2 separate regions of the Homo sapiens genome follow, and region 1 is linked to region 2. Evidence: fine-mapped expression QTL. A gene starts in region 2. The other region holds a variant in brackets. All regions are shown on one strand. Distances are between the middles of the regions.

Region 1 (8,343 bases), 23 kb before region 2:
GCCTGGGAACTGATATGATTTTATATATATATCTCCTTGTGATCTGATTGTTATTCACATGTGCCCATGGTCTCTTCTTTTTTTATTTGTACTCTATTCTAGTCTACACATTAGCTCCAACATCTTTTTGTACTGAATATAACCCATATGAGCTCCCCTGGTCTTCTCTAGAGTAAATCAGAATCATGTCTTCCACCAGTGCTATCCTTGGGATCCCTTGCTATGTGAAGATGGGCAAAATACCTAGAGATAGAAGTTTCTCAGCTGAATGATCAGCATCCACTAATTCACAGCATTTATCACAACTACAATTAGGCATCTGTTAATTTCTATCTTGCCCACTAAGCTCAAAGAGGGTAAGAGGCTGGGTGCAGTGGCTCACACCTGTAATACCAGCACTTTGGGAGGCTGAGGCGGGCAGATCGCTTGAGCCCAGGAGTTCAATACCAGCCTGGGAAACACAGAGAGACCCCGTCTCTACAAAAAATTGTTAAAAATTGCCAGGCATGGTAGTGCACGCCTGTGGTCCCACATACTCGGGAGGCTGAAGTGAGAGGATCACTTGAGACCAGAAGGTCAAAGCTGCAATGAGCCATGATCATGCCACTGCACTCTGGCCTGCATGACAGAGTAAAACCTTGTCTCAATCAGTCAGTCAATAAAAGAGGGCAGGAATCATGTCTATATTGTTCGTAACTGGATTCCCATAGCAGGTCATCAGCATGTGCCAGGCACTGTCCTAGGTACTGCAGATGCATGAGTTAATAAAACAGATTAAAACCCTGGCTCTCTTGGAGCTTACCTTCTGGTAGTCACTCACTGATTTCTAAAATAGGATGTTAGGGCCCAGGCCTGAGAAGTATCTGCAGATGGCTATCAACTTAAGTAATCTATTTTTTTAATTAAATGTCTAGAATGGGAAAATCTATAGAGGCAGAAAGTAGACCTGTGTTTGCCTAGAGCTGGGGGAGACAGGAGGCACTAGGGAGAAATGGGGAGTACTGTTAATGGGTACAGGATTTCTTTTTAGGGGGATAAAAATGTTCTAAAATTGACTGTGGTGGTGGTTGCACAACTCTGTGAACATACTGAAAACCATTGAATTGTGCACTCTAAATAGGTGAATTATATGATATTTGAATTATAACTCAGTAAAGCTGTTATATTTTTAAAAACAGATGGAGAGGAGTTTGTAGGGATAAGGAACAGTCTAATTCAATGGCCTCCATTTCCTCAGAGGATTTGGGGGTCCCAGGGAAGAGTTGAAGAACAAATAAGGCCATGGTAAAGAAAGTTAAGGGAGCACTGAGGGCCCAGCTACAGTGAGAGAACAACAATTCCGTGGGGATTACCTCTATAGGCAATCTTCAAGTAGGAACAGAAGGTCATAGGGTGAACTGCTCTGCACTGGGGCTGGCAGGGCAGATACAACAGAAACACAAGGGGCAAGAAATCTCTGGAAATGTCTGGTAAAACAATAGTTTGCTACGTTATTTTTTAATGCCTTTTGTGTACATATGACTTATTTTCTCATTTAAGAGCAAGCCAATGCATCAGATTCTATTACATCTCCTGAGTGTCTCTGATGCAATATTATACATGTACTGTTCATAATAAGGAACATGAATTAATAAAGTTAACATTTACTGAACACTTACTATATGCCTAGGCATTATATTAGGTGCTTTAAATTCATTTCCTCTATTTATTTCCAGTAGTGCCATGAGATAAGTACTATCATTATCCCTGTGTTATAAAGAAGAAAAAAGAGCCGGGCACAGTGGCTCACGCCTGTAATCCCAGCATTTTGGGAGGTTGAGGCAAGTGGATCACCTGAGGTCAGAGGTTTGAGACCAGCCTAGCCAGCACAGTGAAACCCCATGTCTACTAAAAATACAAAAACTAGCCAGGCGTGGTGGTGCATGCCTGTAGTCCCAGCTACTCGGGAGGCTGAGGCACAAAAATCGCTTGAACCCGGAAGGTGGAGGTTGCAGTGAGCCAAGATCACACCACTGCACTCCAGCCTGGGTGACACAGCGAGACTCTGTCTCAAAGAAAGAAGAAGAAAAAACGTCTAAGAGCTGTTGAGTAATGTGCCCAAGGTCACCATGGCCAGTAAGGAGTGAGGACAGAATTCCAGAACACATCTGTCGGACTCACCACAATGCCTATAAGCTCTTAACCACTGAACTGTCTTCTGACCATGAAAAAAAAGCTTTCACATTGACTGTAACGTTAGAAGGGTTTTTGCTAATAACCAAATTATTTTAAATTGGTAATACATGGCAATTAATAACTAGATACCTATAATTTAGGAAAATTTGCACTGAAATATACAAAGTTACCCTTTTACTTAATCCGTGTCAACTTATCTCTAAGTAAAATTTTCAAAATAAAATACAATTTTTGACCTTTCTTATTACATTTTGTATTTACAGAAGTTTACAGTATACAGACTGTACAATAAGAAATCAAAACAATAAGAAAATTTGCACTTAAAGTTAATTTTAACACTAGTGAGGAAGAAAACTATGCTGTATTAAATTACTTTAAAACCTACCCCTTTGTACAGAAGATGTACTTGACTGAGGAGTTTTCTCTTGATTCTCCTTCTTGACATCCATGGAATCTAATAAAAAAGAAAATAGCAATACTGGGAGTCCACAGCAACAGCTTGAAAGAGCACTCAGAAAAATATAAATTAAAAAACTTTAAAGAGCCAATTTTAGTTTTATAATATCTTCATTTTCTATGTAGGACTTACCATTTTCTAATGTACTATGCATTTTATAATCTGCTCATTTATTGTCTCACTCTACTCAAATGAAATCTCCAAAAGGGCAGAGATTTATTTATTTTATTGTCTATCTCATTCACTGTGGTATCCTCAAGCGCCTAAAACAGGACCTGGCATCGCAACACTCTCAAGCATTTGTTAAATCAATGCATCAGGCCAGGCGTGGTGGCTCACGCCTGTAATTCCAGCACTTGAGGAGGCCAAGGCAGGCAGATCACATGAGGTCACGAGTTTGAGACCAGCCAGGCCAACATGCGAAACCCTGTCTCTCCTAAAAATAGAAAAAATTAGCCAGGCATGGTGGCGGGCACCTGTAATCCCAGCTACTCGGGCAGCTGAGACAAGAGAATCACTTGAACCCGGGAGGCAGAGGTTGCAGTGAGCTGAGATCGTGCCATTGCACTCCAGCCTGGGTGACAGAGCGAGACTCCGTCTCAAAAAAAAAAAAAAAAAAAAAAAAAAAAAAATCAGTGCATCAATAAATCAAAATGAGCTGATCTTTACAATGTTTAAATTAACATGTCCTAGAAATAAAAC[A/G]GATGCTTTTGAGAGTTCAAAACATAACAGAGAAGCTACAATACACTGTAATTCAATGGACTGGGCAGAGATTTTCTTGGTGCTAAGCTAAAGAGCTCAAATAACACTGGACCTGGTAACCTCACCAAATCTAAGATGTATCATTTCATCCACATGTATTATAGTATGTATCTCTAAAAGGACTCATTTTTAAAAACTTAAGCATAATATTTCTATTACATCTAAAAAAATTAACCATAATTCCTTAAAATCATCAAATAACCAGTGTTCCCCAATTGTCTTAACTATTTTTAGTGTGTATGCTTGATTCAGAACCCAAATAAGTCCACACACATAGCAATGGTTGATATGTCTCTTACATCTCTTTTGATCTACAGGTGTCTTCCTCCTTTCTTCTCGTTTTTATTCTTCCCCTTTACAATTTTTTTGCTGACAATACCAGTTGGTTGGTCCTTTCAAGTTTTCCAGTCTGGATTTTGCTGACTACCTCCCCACAGAGTTCGGTTCCTCTGTTTCTTGTATTTTCTTTAAATTGGCATTCATATTTCAATCCAGAAGAGTTTGGTCAGATTTAAGATTGGCTTTTTGGTGGGAGAGGAGAGGATAAGATGACTTCATAGGTGGTGTTGTGTATTTCTCACAGGAGGCTCCTAATATCTAGTTATCTCTCTTTTCGTGATGTGAACAGTCGTGGATGGCTATTGCCTAGATCCTTTCGTTTATTAATGGTTGCAAAATGAAGGTATTCTAATTCTATCATTCTTTATTAGCCAGAAAACTTCTATAGAGAGAAGCTTCCATGCTTCAACCATTCAGTTACCTTAAGGCACGGATCACATAGAGAAATCACAATCAGCACTTTATTATTTTCCTGTATTTCTAGTTTTCAAAGTGATGAGCTGGATCTCTAGCATTCTCCACAGATGACCAGTAAGTTTTATTTGTTTTGCTTTTTATTATCATTATGAACTCATGGATTTAAACATACTTGTGTTGCTATTTTACCCTTACCGATGTTCTAATTGTCAAGTGACAAACTTCTTAAAGAAGGATCTAAGAATGATGCCATTCAACGTAACAGATCTACTTACTAGTTATGACTGAGTGACTCTTCAAGATGTGTGAACACTTGAGAGGGATATATGAGCTGCTTTCTGTTTAAATGATTTCAACTGAGTGGTTGAAGAAAGGTAGTTTCTCTATATAGAAATTTTTTGGCCAATAAAGAATGATAGAATACCTTCATTTTACAACTACTAATAAATGAATGGATCCAGGGAATAGCCATCCATGACTTTTTGTGATTTTTCACATCACAAAAAGAGATAACTAGGTTGGATGTGACAGCTCACACCTGTAATCCCACCACTTTGGGAGGCCAAGGAGGGAGGATCACTTGAGGCCAGGAGTTTGAGGCCAACCTGAGCAACACAGCAAGACCCAGTCTCCACAAAAATTTTTTTAAAAAATTAGCCAGGTGTGGTGGCACACATCTGCAGCCTCACCTGCTTGGGAGGCCAAGGCAGGAGGATCACTTGAGCCCAGGAGTTTGGGGTTACAGTAAGCTATGATTACGCCACTGCACTCTAGTCTGAGTAATTTCATCTCTGTAAAAAAATATTTTTTAAAAAAAGGCCAGGCACGTTGGTTCATGCCTGTAATCCCAGCACTTTGAGAGGCCGAGGCGGGAAGATCACTTGAGGTCAGGAGTTCGAAAGCAGCCTGGCCAACATGGCAAAACCCTGTCTCTACTAAAAATACAAAAAATTAGCCAGGTGTGGTAGCTCACGTCTGTGGCCCCAGCCTCTCAGGAGGCTAAGGCAAGAGGATCACTTAAGCCCAGGAGGCAGAGATTGCAATGAGCCATGATCGTGCCACTGCCCTCCAGCCTGGACAACAGAGCAAAACCCTGTCTCAAAAAAAAATAAAAATAAAAATTTAAAAAAAGACAGAGAGAGATAACTAGATATTAGGAGTCTCCTGTGAGAAATACACAACACCACTTATGAAGTCATCTTATCCTCTCCTCTCTCACCAAAAAGCCAAACTTGAATCTGTACAAAGAACGTACAAATTTGTATTTACTAAATAGTTCTACAGAAGGATTTTTCTAAAAGAAAACAAAGTAAAACTGTAAAGGCATGCTTAGCTTCTAGAGAAGCTAAGAATCTAGTCAAGAGACTACACTAAACTGATACACTTAAAATTAGAGAACAGCATTTAGTACTCAGCATTCAGCCAGAGGAAAAGTCATGAGAGATACAGCGCTTGAAGGAGAAACAGGATGTAGGAAGGCCAATATGTAAAGAATGTATTATGGGAAGGAAGATACAACACAAAGCTGACTGCAAATGAGTGTGGCATATTCATGGAATAGTGAGCAGACTTCTCATAGAGCAAAACAGGATGAAACATTTTTTAATCACTCTTTGGATTCTAATCTTGGCTTTGTCACAAACTGTTGTATGACCTTAACCTCTCTAAGTTTCAGTTTTCTCATTTATATAACTAGCAAGGAAAGACAATGACCTTTAATAGCTATTCAGTTCTAAAATTCAAATTCTAAGCACCTAGCATCTCCTATAAATTTATTTTTTAAAGGCTTTATTTCAAAAGTTCAGTATACCAGAAGATATTCATTCCAAATGAGTAACTAAAAACATTATTGCCTTTAACAAGTAAATCTTACCTTCATTCACTGTTTGTCCCATGGTATCCCTATTTGGTGTTGTTTCCTACAAGGAGAAAAACCAATTAATGCCTCCTTTTAGCATATTAGATTTCTGAAGGATAAGAAGTCAGTTATAAGGCCAGATCAATTTAATCTGTTTCCCTTAAACAAAAATGATAAGATTTGTATATGCCTAGTTGCCTGGGAATGGAGGAAGAAGGAATTGAGGAGTGACTGCTAAGGGGCATGAATATGGGTATGAAGTTTCCTTTGTGGGATAATGAAAGTGTCCTAGAATTAGATAGTGGTGATGGTTATACGCCTTGTTGTGAAAATACTAAAAATCATTGAATTGTATACCTTAAAAGGGTGAGTTTTATGGTATGCAAATTTTGACTCAATTTTTAAAATTAATTGAGTAAAAAAGAACAGTTGGTAGGTTAGCAAAGTTAGGATTCAAACTGAGGCCTATTCCAGGAAGCCCACTTCTGCTACATCATGTTGCCAAGAGGTACAAGAATTATGACCGTGTTGGGAAAACCTGTAAGAACTGCAAGAGTCAAGTCTAACAAGAATTATTTGTTAGAAGCCTTGTGTATTTTGAGCTATAATTCATTAATTCAAACTTTTCCTGCATGTCCTCAATATGCCAGACATTCTGCAGCAAAGATAAATAACAGGCTGTCCTTGGCCTCCAAGACCCCAGTCTAGTCAGAAATAAGCATATGAACAAAACACAATATAAGTGCTATAAAAAAATATGTACATGGATAAACCTAATATGGCAAAAGGCTATCTATCCCGCCATTACTCCATGTGCCTGTAATAAGAACATGATGATGTGTATAACTGAAGGTAATCTGGCACTTAAAGTAAACCTATGAAGAATACATTCATAGGCTGGGTGCAGTGGCTCATGCCTGTAATCCTAGCACTTTGGGAGGCCAAGGCGGGTGGATTTCTTGAGCCCAGCAGTTCAAGATCAGCCTGGGACACTCAGCATCAGAGACACTGATCAATTAAAGACTATAGCCCAGTGGCTAAAGAAACAGACAAGAAAGTAAAATATATACGGGGTGTTGAATCCACACAGATGATAAAGCACTGTAATCCAGGTAGTAAGTGAAGGTACTTACCGACTCTCATCAAAGAGCAAAAACCTGTGAATTACATTAAAATGAGTCTTATCAGGCTGGGCACAGTGGCTCATGCCTGTAATCCCAGCACTTTGGGAAGCCGAGGTGGGTGGATCACTTGAGCCCAGGGGTTCGAGACCAGCCTGGGCAACATGGTGAAACTCTATCTCTACAAAAAATTTAAAAATTAGCCAGGTGTGGTGGTACATGCCTGTAGTCTCAGCTATTCAGGAGGCTGAGGTGGGAAAATCACCTGAGCCCGGGAAATCCAGGCTGCAGTAAGCTGTGATTGTGCCACTGTACTCCACCCTGGGAGTCAGAGTGAGACCCTGCCTCAAAAAAATAAATAAATAAATAGTCTTATTACTATACAAATGAATTCAGTCCAATAAACTGAGGGATGGGTCACACACAGAAGATATAACCAGGTTCCCATGTTCTCTCAAATATCTAACCCATAGCTGAATGCTTAACTCAGCTGGTAGCAATTGCTTCCATTGGCTGAATAAGTTATTTTTGTAATCCTGGAAGGAGTGAAAATACGTATACAGATGATCGAAAATACATACTTGAAGAAAACCTAAATAAATCACCATATTCACAAGCTGGAAGACTCAATATTCTTAAGATGTCAATTCTCCCCAAATTAATCTGCAGAACCAACAAACTGATCATCAAAATCCTCATAGGGTCTTCAGAGAAATATGCTGATTCTAAAATTTATATTTTTGAAAATGGAGAAGATTAGAATAGCTAAAACAATCTTCAAAAAGAACAAAGATGGAGAATTTACATCATCTTATTTCAAGACATAGTATAAGGCAACGGTATTCAAAACTGTGTGACATTGGCATAGGATATACAAATTAGATCAGTGGAAACAGGCTAGGCAGTCCGGAAATAGACCCACAAATATTTGGTCAATTGATTTTCAACTCAGGGAACAAGGTAATCCAATGGGAAAAAGAAAAATATTTTTAAAAGAATGATCCCATTGGCGGGCATGGTGGCTCATGCCTGCAATCCCAGCACTTTGGGAGGCCGAGGCAGATCATGAAGTCAAGAGATCGAGACCATCCTGGCCAACATGGTGAAACCCCGTCTCTACTAAAAATACAAAAATTAGCTGGGCGTGGTGGCATGCACCTGTAGTCCCAGCTACTTGGGAGGCTGAGGCAGGAGGAGCACTTGAACCCAGGAGG
Region 2 (8,343 bases):
CCATCTCAAAAAAAAAAAAACATCACCAACATTTGCCATTTTCAAAATGTCCAGGTTTTTAGTTCCTGGAATCAACAATCAGTTCAAATTCTAAGGTATTATGTAGTAATTCTCAGACATTAATAATGGTTCTAAAATTATTAGGGATGCTTGATTTGCCCACTGCAAACTACAAAACACCTTCTGGCAATGACAGACTAATCTTTGCACCACAGCTCATAGCTCTAAGGCTGATAGCTGGCAGAGCCCACTTTGTTCTTGTATATCCTAAAAATCAGGAATATGACTATGAGGAGACAGTGAGACCTACCCTCCCCACCCCGAGAGGGTAGCTAATAGAGAGGACCTCCGATTTCCATTCACAAGTGGAATGAGAATAGAGGGAGAAAAATGGCAGACAGAATAACCAGGCAAAAAAAAAAAAAAGACTAGAGGTGACTAATAAGGCAAACAGCAGAGGATACTGCTGTATCCACCCGTGTTCCAGTTACTAGAGTTACAAAAGTCATTGCTATTAACCCCAAAAGAAAGGCAGTAAAATAGTCAAGTGAAACTTTTCTCTCGCACCCCCAAGAGCTCAAACTAAAATTGGGATTTGGCTCTTCCTTAAATGGAACAAGTGGCTACATCAAGTTAATTCAAAAGACTTGGTATTTACTCAGCCTTTTCAAGGCACTTTACCATCATTAATTATTTCTCAGTGAAGCAGCAAAGGATTACCCTGACCATTTCACTGATGCGGAAACAGACACCAACAGCAAAGGGAACAGGGGCAGGAAGAGGGGTGATAGGAAGCATCTGGGAGGAACAGGCAGGCAGCTAAAAAGGAACAAGCCCAAAAGAAAATAAGAGTCACATCTGGCTTATAGCTGAGGATCATAACCCTTATTTGTTATTTCTGAGCTCAGAGATTTCTGCAACATTTTGAAAAAACAAAGTGCTTTAAAATACCAGTTAAAACTTAATTACAGCTTAAACTACTTAGTAATAGAAATTGCTTAGTATTAAAAAATACCCAATCTTCAGAGCACATATTGATTTCCATTTATACCAGCAACTCATTTTTCCCCTCAAGCTTAACCAGTATGTTATCTATTTGAACCAGAAAATAATCTCATGAAAATATATAGCTTTATATAATCCTAACCAAAAAATCACAAAGTTAACATCACGTAAGTCAGAAATAGTTTGCAGCTACACTCAGAATTTTGTTTGGAGAATTATGACAAAAATACTGACTTCTCGAGTTCGCCCTTTGAATGAAAGGAATACTTGTTCTACATTCGTATTGATTTTTTTAGCTATAACTCCCTGAAATTTTCAGGAATAAACTATGGGTGGAAAGCCTTAAACACCCTGAAATTAGCACACGTAGTGGGCTCTGAATAAACTGAACTCCATAGTAAAGACAGCACAGGTGCTTAATAAAGATGTGTTGATGGAATCATAAATCAAAAGGACTGATCAACCACCTCATGAGAAAAACTGATACACCTTTTTTAGACTGACTGTAATGATTTTTGAACGTTATGACACTATCAACTTTAAAGCACCCGCACATATAATGCAGTAGAGTTACAGTAATCTTTTTTCCAACTACCAATTCCAAAGCAAATCAGGTTCTCTGGGGTAAACAAGTATACATCCTTAAGAAGTTCATATGGCTGCATGATGTATATATAAAGTTCATTCAAAACTTTCAAAGCCAGTTTAAATGGTGTTTTTTCTTTACATTCTATCAAACTGTTTTAAAGGTTATAGATAAAGCTAAACACAAGGCATCAGGTGAATACTCATAAACTCAATCTTTTCTCAAAAATCCCACTGGATTCATTTCCAAAAGCTTATTTTCACATTCCTCCCATTAAATAGAAAAAAAAAAAAAAAACACACAAACAGCCTGAAAGCACATTCGTAATTGGAAATATTTTATTTAATGAGTAATTAAGAAAAATAAAAGAAAGGCAAAATCGTCATTATTGAAAAACATTTCCCTCGCTGTTATTGAAAAGAATTAAATATGCGTTTATGAACCATTGTTATAAAACAATTGCTCATCATAGGCAGCTGTACTCCATAAATGTTGTACATCTTAAAATACTTTTCCCTCAAAACAGAAATATGAATAGCTCTGGGGGCATTAAAATGTAGCAGCATCTGAAGCTGTTTTAGGGAAAAAAACAACTATCTCCAATACTTTTGTAAATCATATGATCATAAGCAACTTATTCACTTTCCCTGCCTCAGTTTACCCCCACTAATCGATCCATTAACTTTCCAGAGAAGACCTAAAGTAAGTCATAAACGTTAATCTCCTAATTTACAAACAAGAAGCAAATTTCAAGTTGCAATCACACTTTGTGATGCTTGACAAATGTTTAACAACCTCTTTTTAAAAAATAAATAGTCTCAAATGGGAGCCTGTAAGTAAATACTTGTGCTGCCCAAACATTTGGGGTTTGGGGGAGCCGAATTACAAGTCGGCCCAGGAAGCTATCTATGTACAACCTTGAGGCGCAAAATCGAGCAAATTCGCCTAGACCCATTCTCCCTCCGGCTCTTCACACCTGGATGGGGCGCAAGCACGATACAGGTGGAAAAAGCGAGAAAGGTAAGAAACCATTTCGAGACTGTTTCTAAGTGACGGCAGCAACTTTTTTTCGGTCAGGCCGCGAGGCCGCCTCTCCGCCCCTCAGGAGGCTTAGAGCCCCTCCTCGCCTCCCCGCCAGCCCCGGACGGGACGCGCATTCCGGTCCCGCTGCACCGCTAGGGTGAGCCACCGGCGCCCCCAGCCCCCGCCAGGAGCCCGGCGGCGCGCACCTTGGCACCAGGATTTGCGCCCGCACGCCGCCACAGGCGCATCCTTCCGGGCCGACGTTTCCCTCCCAAACTCCAAAAGTTATCTCAGCCCAGACCAGGCAAAGTCTACCTCCTTCCTCCGCCCCGCCACCCACCGTGATGCCCCCCAGGCCCCAGCCCGGCCCTACCCACGGCAGGGAGGATGCGCCGGAGGGCGCTGTCGGCGCTGCAGGCGAGGGGACGGGTGGAAGCTATCGGCCGGGCGCCCAAACCCCGCGGCGGCGAAAAGGCCCCGGGGCGGCGTGAGGGGAAACGCGAGATCGGCTGAAGGGCGTCCGCGGAAGGCGCCGGGGGCGGGATACCCTATCGCGAAGCCGAACTGAGATGGGACATAGGCGGGATCGTAAGGGGGCGTTCCTCGCACGGGACGCGCGCTGATGGCTTCTACCCGCCCGCCCACGGACAACGGTCGGGGTCCGGGACACACCTCCGCCTCTCCATTCCTTACGGGGCCCGGAATCACCACGTACCTCCAGTCTCGTCGGTGAAAACAACGAAATTCTGTCCCACCGATCGCGCGAGCCGGCACCGAGCTTCACACCGCCGCCGCCATGTTTGAGAAGCCGCGCGCGGAGCCGCGCATGCCCCGCAACCGCCACTGCCGCCCCGCCCCCCGCGCGGCCGGCCCGCGTGCCCTGCGGTTGCCGCGAGCACGCCCTTTGACCGCCGCCGCGTGCGGGGCCCGAGCCGGGGTCAAGCCGAGCGCCACCGCAGGCAGTGGCGGACCATGAGACACTGTGAGCCCGGGAAAGCCCTTGGCACTTTGCCTCCTACCCCCCACGCCTACGCCAAATGAAAAACCAGTCGCAGCCCAAGCACCCGAGGCCGTGGGGAGCCCCTCGATGGGACCCCGGGTTCCACGTCAAGTTCCATCCCGGGAACTCGCTCCCCTTCACTGTCGCCTTCGAATCCTGGCCACCACCCACCCTGGCCACGCACCCAAAAAGCAGGCGCTTCCCTCGGAACTCAAGCAAGTTCGAGGAGCAGGGAGAAGCAGCTGGTTACAGCAGCTTGAGGAAAGCCACTGCTTGGCGGGTTGCAGCATAGTCCTTGAAACTGCTTTTTTTTTTTTTTTCCATGAGTTTTTGCCACGCATTCACCTCCCAGCTTCACTCTCTGGATTTCGTTCTTCCTCTAAACCCGGGGTTGAGCTAACGGGAACTAGATGAACCCGCAGGGGGAAATCACTTGCTTACTGACTCAGGAGCATCCCCGAGAGTGCGTTTTGGGGTCCCTTCTGCACGCTCCCTTTCCCACCGGGCAAGGCCCATAGCGCAAGTGGAGGTCGCACAAAGGAGGGGGCGTAAAAACAGCTTTAAAACGACCAGTGAATCTCTCAGCACAAATTACAGCAAACAGAACGCCGGAGAAAAACATCTGTCCCTCGTTCTCAGGTTAGGTATAAGCTGATTTCAAACTTTTGTTTGAAAAATAATACAATGTGCTATGTTAGCCAAAAACAAACCATTGCTAGGGCTTCTCTCTCTGGAACTCTTTCCAAAGCTGGATGTAGGTTTTGCATCTGTGATCACCTAACTTAGTGCAGAGGGCATGATATACTTTTTAAATCATGATTTGGAAATCAGAGCTTAAAACTGAGAACAAAAAACTCCTGTGGAATATATCCATTGTCTACAACGCAGGATAGAATTTTCCAGTTGCAGCTTCTGCAGTATTAAGCAAAAGTCAAAGTGTTTATTATATCTAAACATTGGCAAGTGGCACAGAATCAAATGGATCTATTATTTAATGCTTTAAAAATGAAAACCTAAATGTTAATGCCAAATTCAAGTAAACTTTAAGGCGAAAATAGAAAGACTAGGTTGATGATATGCAAATATTAAAGTGAGATTTGGTCCTATCAATTCTATAATGTATATCACATAGGAGAAAATGTTGGAGTGTCCTAAGATGAAGGTTCAAGCATGTTTTTTGAGACAAGAGTCTCGTTTTGTCGCCCAGGCTGGAGAGCAGTGGCACGATCTCGGCTCACTGCAACCTCCGCCTCCCGGGTTCAAGCGATTCTCCTGCCTCAGCCTCCTGAGTAGCTGGGACTACAGTCGCGTGCCACTAGGCCCGGCTAATTTTTTGTATTTTTAGTAGAGACGGGGTTTCATCGTGTTAGCCAGGATGGTCTCGATCTCCCGACCTCATGATCCACCCGCCTCTGCCTCCCAAAGTGCTGGGATTACACGCGTGAGCCACTACGCCCGGCCCAAACATGTTTTCAAAAGCCAGAAAGAGGCCGGACGCGGTGGCTCACGCCTGTAATCCCAGCACTTTGGGAGGCCGAGGCGAGTGGATCACCTGAGGTCGGGAGTTGGAGACCAGCCTGACCAACATGGAGAAACCCTGTCTCTACTAAAAGTACAAAATATTAGCCGGGCGTGGTGGCACGCGCCTGTAATCCCAGCTATTCGGGAGGCTGAGGCAGGAGAATCGCTTGAACCTGGGAAGCAGAGGTTGCCGTGAGCCGAGATCGCGCCATTGCACTCCAGCCTGGGCAACAAGAGCGAAATTCTGTCTCAAAAAAAAAAAAAAAAAAAAAAAGCCAGAAGGAGATCTTTAACAGAAAGAAATTAAACAGAGGTTTAATCTAAACAAACCTTATTATGGGCACCAGCAGGGCTGAGGAGGACATAAATTCTTAATTAGTGGCCACTGTCCTTCTAATCCCAATGCAATGGAAATATTTGAAATTCATCTCTACATTCTATGTATGAAAGATTTATTTGGGACTCCATCTCAAAAAAAAAAGAAAGATTTACTTTGGCTTGTCACATACCTTTTTTACGTCTATGGATTCTATTAAATTGTAGGAATTCTACTATGATTGCTGAATTGCCTGGCTCACTGATGCCTAATCTATTTTTCATATTTCTGTTAACATGAAATTACTGAAGCCCTTATTCTAAAAATGAAATTTGAATTATCTATCCTAGAACATCTTCTCAGTTACTATCCTCACCAAAGGATTTATAGATGTGTGACTCTTCGTTATATTAAATCTGAGTTATCGATAATAACAATAGCTACCATTTATTGAGCATGTGCTGAGAATCACGCTAGTCTCTTTAGAGATAAATTTCCAATATTTGCAATGTTCTTTCACAACTTTCCTATGAGGTAGGTACTCTCATTCCCATTTTACAGATGAGGAAAATAAATTAATACACAGCAAATAAGTGGCAGTTAGCTTTTGAATATATTAATATATTCAAATATGTCCTAATAATTCCTTCCACCCTTGTCATCAATTGTGCTTTTATCCACTACGTATATAAACTTTTCAATAATTATTTTATTATACCCTGCTTTTCCACCTTTGCCAAAATAAATTTGAGACAGTTTTTTCATAATGTTAACACAGGTTGGAACATCACCGTTTCTCTTACATTATATGTAAGTCTCTTGCCCATAGTAGGAATTTGGTAAATATTTGTTGAATGAGTGAATAGATAAATGGATAAATGAATACCTACTGTTATTATGTTCGATTAACTTTGCCTAGAAAACATGAAAATAAAGAAACTGTGAACTGAAAGAATAAGAACTAAAGCTGGTAAAATCCAAGTTTTCATGATTTATTTTTCAAGCCTCAGATTTGCTCCTGTGAATTTGCTCTTATAGTTCTCCTGATTTGGCACCAAACCTGTGACAACCTTCAAAAAAACACATCACCCCACCCAGTCCAAGTCCAGGGCAAAATACTCCTGTATTTCAAGTGTGTTTTATTGCTTCCTTTTGTACCTTTTTTAGAGTTCAATATTAGTGAGAGTGAAAAGATAATCTTCCCTAGATAAGCAAGTTTAATCTAGATCTTCATCAGTACACATGCTTATGTTGAAACAATATCGGCCAGGCGCGGTGGCTCACACCTGTAATCCCTCCACTTTGGGAGGCCGAGGCAGGTGGATCACCTGAGGTCAGGAGTTTGAGACCAGCCTGGCCAACATGGCGAAACCCAGTCTCTACTAAAAATACAAAAATTAGCCAGGTGGCGTGGCGGGCGCCTGTAATCCTAGCTACTTGAGAGTCTGAGGCAGGAGAATCGCTTGAACCCGGGAGGTGGAGGCTGCAGTGAGCCGCGATCGTGCCACTGCACTCCAGCCTGGGCAACAAGAACGAAACTTCGTCTCGGAAAAAAAAAAAAAAGAAACAATGTAATTTGCATACATAAAGTTAACGTTTTAGGATGAGTGAAGACTCCCTCTAGTTTTCCTACTAAATGGGCATCTTTCTCCCTAAAACACAGAAGCCTAACTAAGCCTGGCAGAGACTGGAGCTCCAAGTTGTAACTAGTAAACCCACTATTCATATTTTTACCTTAGTGTAAAAATCCATAGAATGGGTATTAAATAACTGATTGTTTAAAATAGTGACTTTACAAATATCTTCAGATCCCTGTTTCTAACAATTTGCCCTTTTTTCCCCATTAAACCAAGAGCACATATCTGTAAGATATAAATTGTTTTCAGTATTGTTATGGTTGCTTACAATAAACCTCTTCTTTTAACTTCAAAATAGTAACTTCCCTGGAAAAAGATCAAGAAGTGAAGTGCAATAGGAAGACAGAGAAGCTAGTCTAACAGGAAGGCATCGTATTCTAGCAAAAGGAGGACCGGCCCTGTCTCTCGTCTGGAATCTCAAGTCTATCATTAGTCTATCTCAACTAACTAACTGTATTTCTTTAGAACCTTTCCATGCCTCAGATTGTTTTAATTTTTTTAATGGGGATAATAAAATCTGCTACATTTACTTCACAGATGGGGAAAATACTAGTCAAATCTATCAGAAAACCACATGGTCTTTGCTTAACAAATCCCCACATTTAAAAAAGTAAAATTACATTAGCCTTTTACCAACAAAGTGCATGACACCTAAGCTGACTTTGGCCAAGTCAAGTGTTTTATATGCTGTGAAAACTAACATAACCTCAGTGAACACTACGCTACATTTGACCATTATTACATTCAGCCAGTCCTTCATTCAGTGATGTATTGAATGCTTATGTGCCACTCTGCCAGAAGTGAGAATACCAGGATGAATAAGACAGTTTGAATACTCCAGGAGTTTACACCCCATCCAAAGAGGAGAGACAGAGATAGATAGACGTATGTTTTAAGATCTTCAGAGGAACTAGGATCTATTACCACACCCTTCCCCATATCGAACCTTTTTAGATGTACCTATATTATATTTTTTGTATAACTAGATGAATGGAATTAGAGTTGACCAGCTGACAACTGGCCTTTTGGACATTTCACTAAAACATTTATCATTTTGATTTTCATGCCTGTAATCCTAGCACTTTGGGAGACCGAGGCAAGTGGATCACTTGAGCCCAGCAGTTTGAGACCAGCCTGGGCAATATGGCAAAACCTCGTCTCTACACAATAAATACATACATACATACATAATCCAAAAATTAGCTGGGCATGATGGTGCACGCCTGTAGTCCCAGCTACTCAGGAGGCTGAGGTG

Direction of the effects. Alleles are on the strand shown, and positions count from the first base shown. SD is a standard deviation of normalised expression in the study named.
For the expression in sigmoid colon of the gene that starts at base 3,426 in region 2, allele A in region 1 goes with a higher level than allele G (moderate effect, 0.50 SD a copy in GTEx).

The links. PIP is the estimated chance that this variant, and not a neighbour inherited with it, causes the effect.
Region 1: its variant is fine-mapped to the expression of SCML2 in sigmoid colon (GTEx, PIP 0.94).

What each region holds. Positions count from the first base shown.
Region 1 is chrX:18,328,027-18,336,369 of GRCh38, forward strand. SCML2 (Scm polycomb group protein like 2) reads right to left here. Exons shown (of 15, transcript NM_006089.3): 2 at 6,024-6,069; 3 at 2,561-2,629. The coding sequence starts at 6,045. Among named protein-coding and RNA genes, the nearest start is that of SCML2, 22 kb to the right of the region's middle. The variant A/G (reference allele first, on the strand shown) is at 3,335.
Region 2 is chrX:18,351,263-18,359,605 of GRCh38, forward strand. SCML2 (Scm polycomb group protein like 2) reads right to left here and starts at 3,426. Exons shown (of 15, transcript NM_006089.3): 1 at 3,330-3,426. It overlaps LOC124905253 (a long non-coding RNA gene), which reads left to right and starts at 3,919. Exons shown (of 2, transcript XR_007068403.1): 1 at 3,919-4,253; 2 at 7,387-7,624.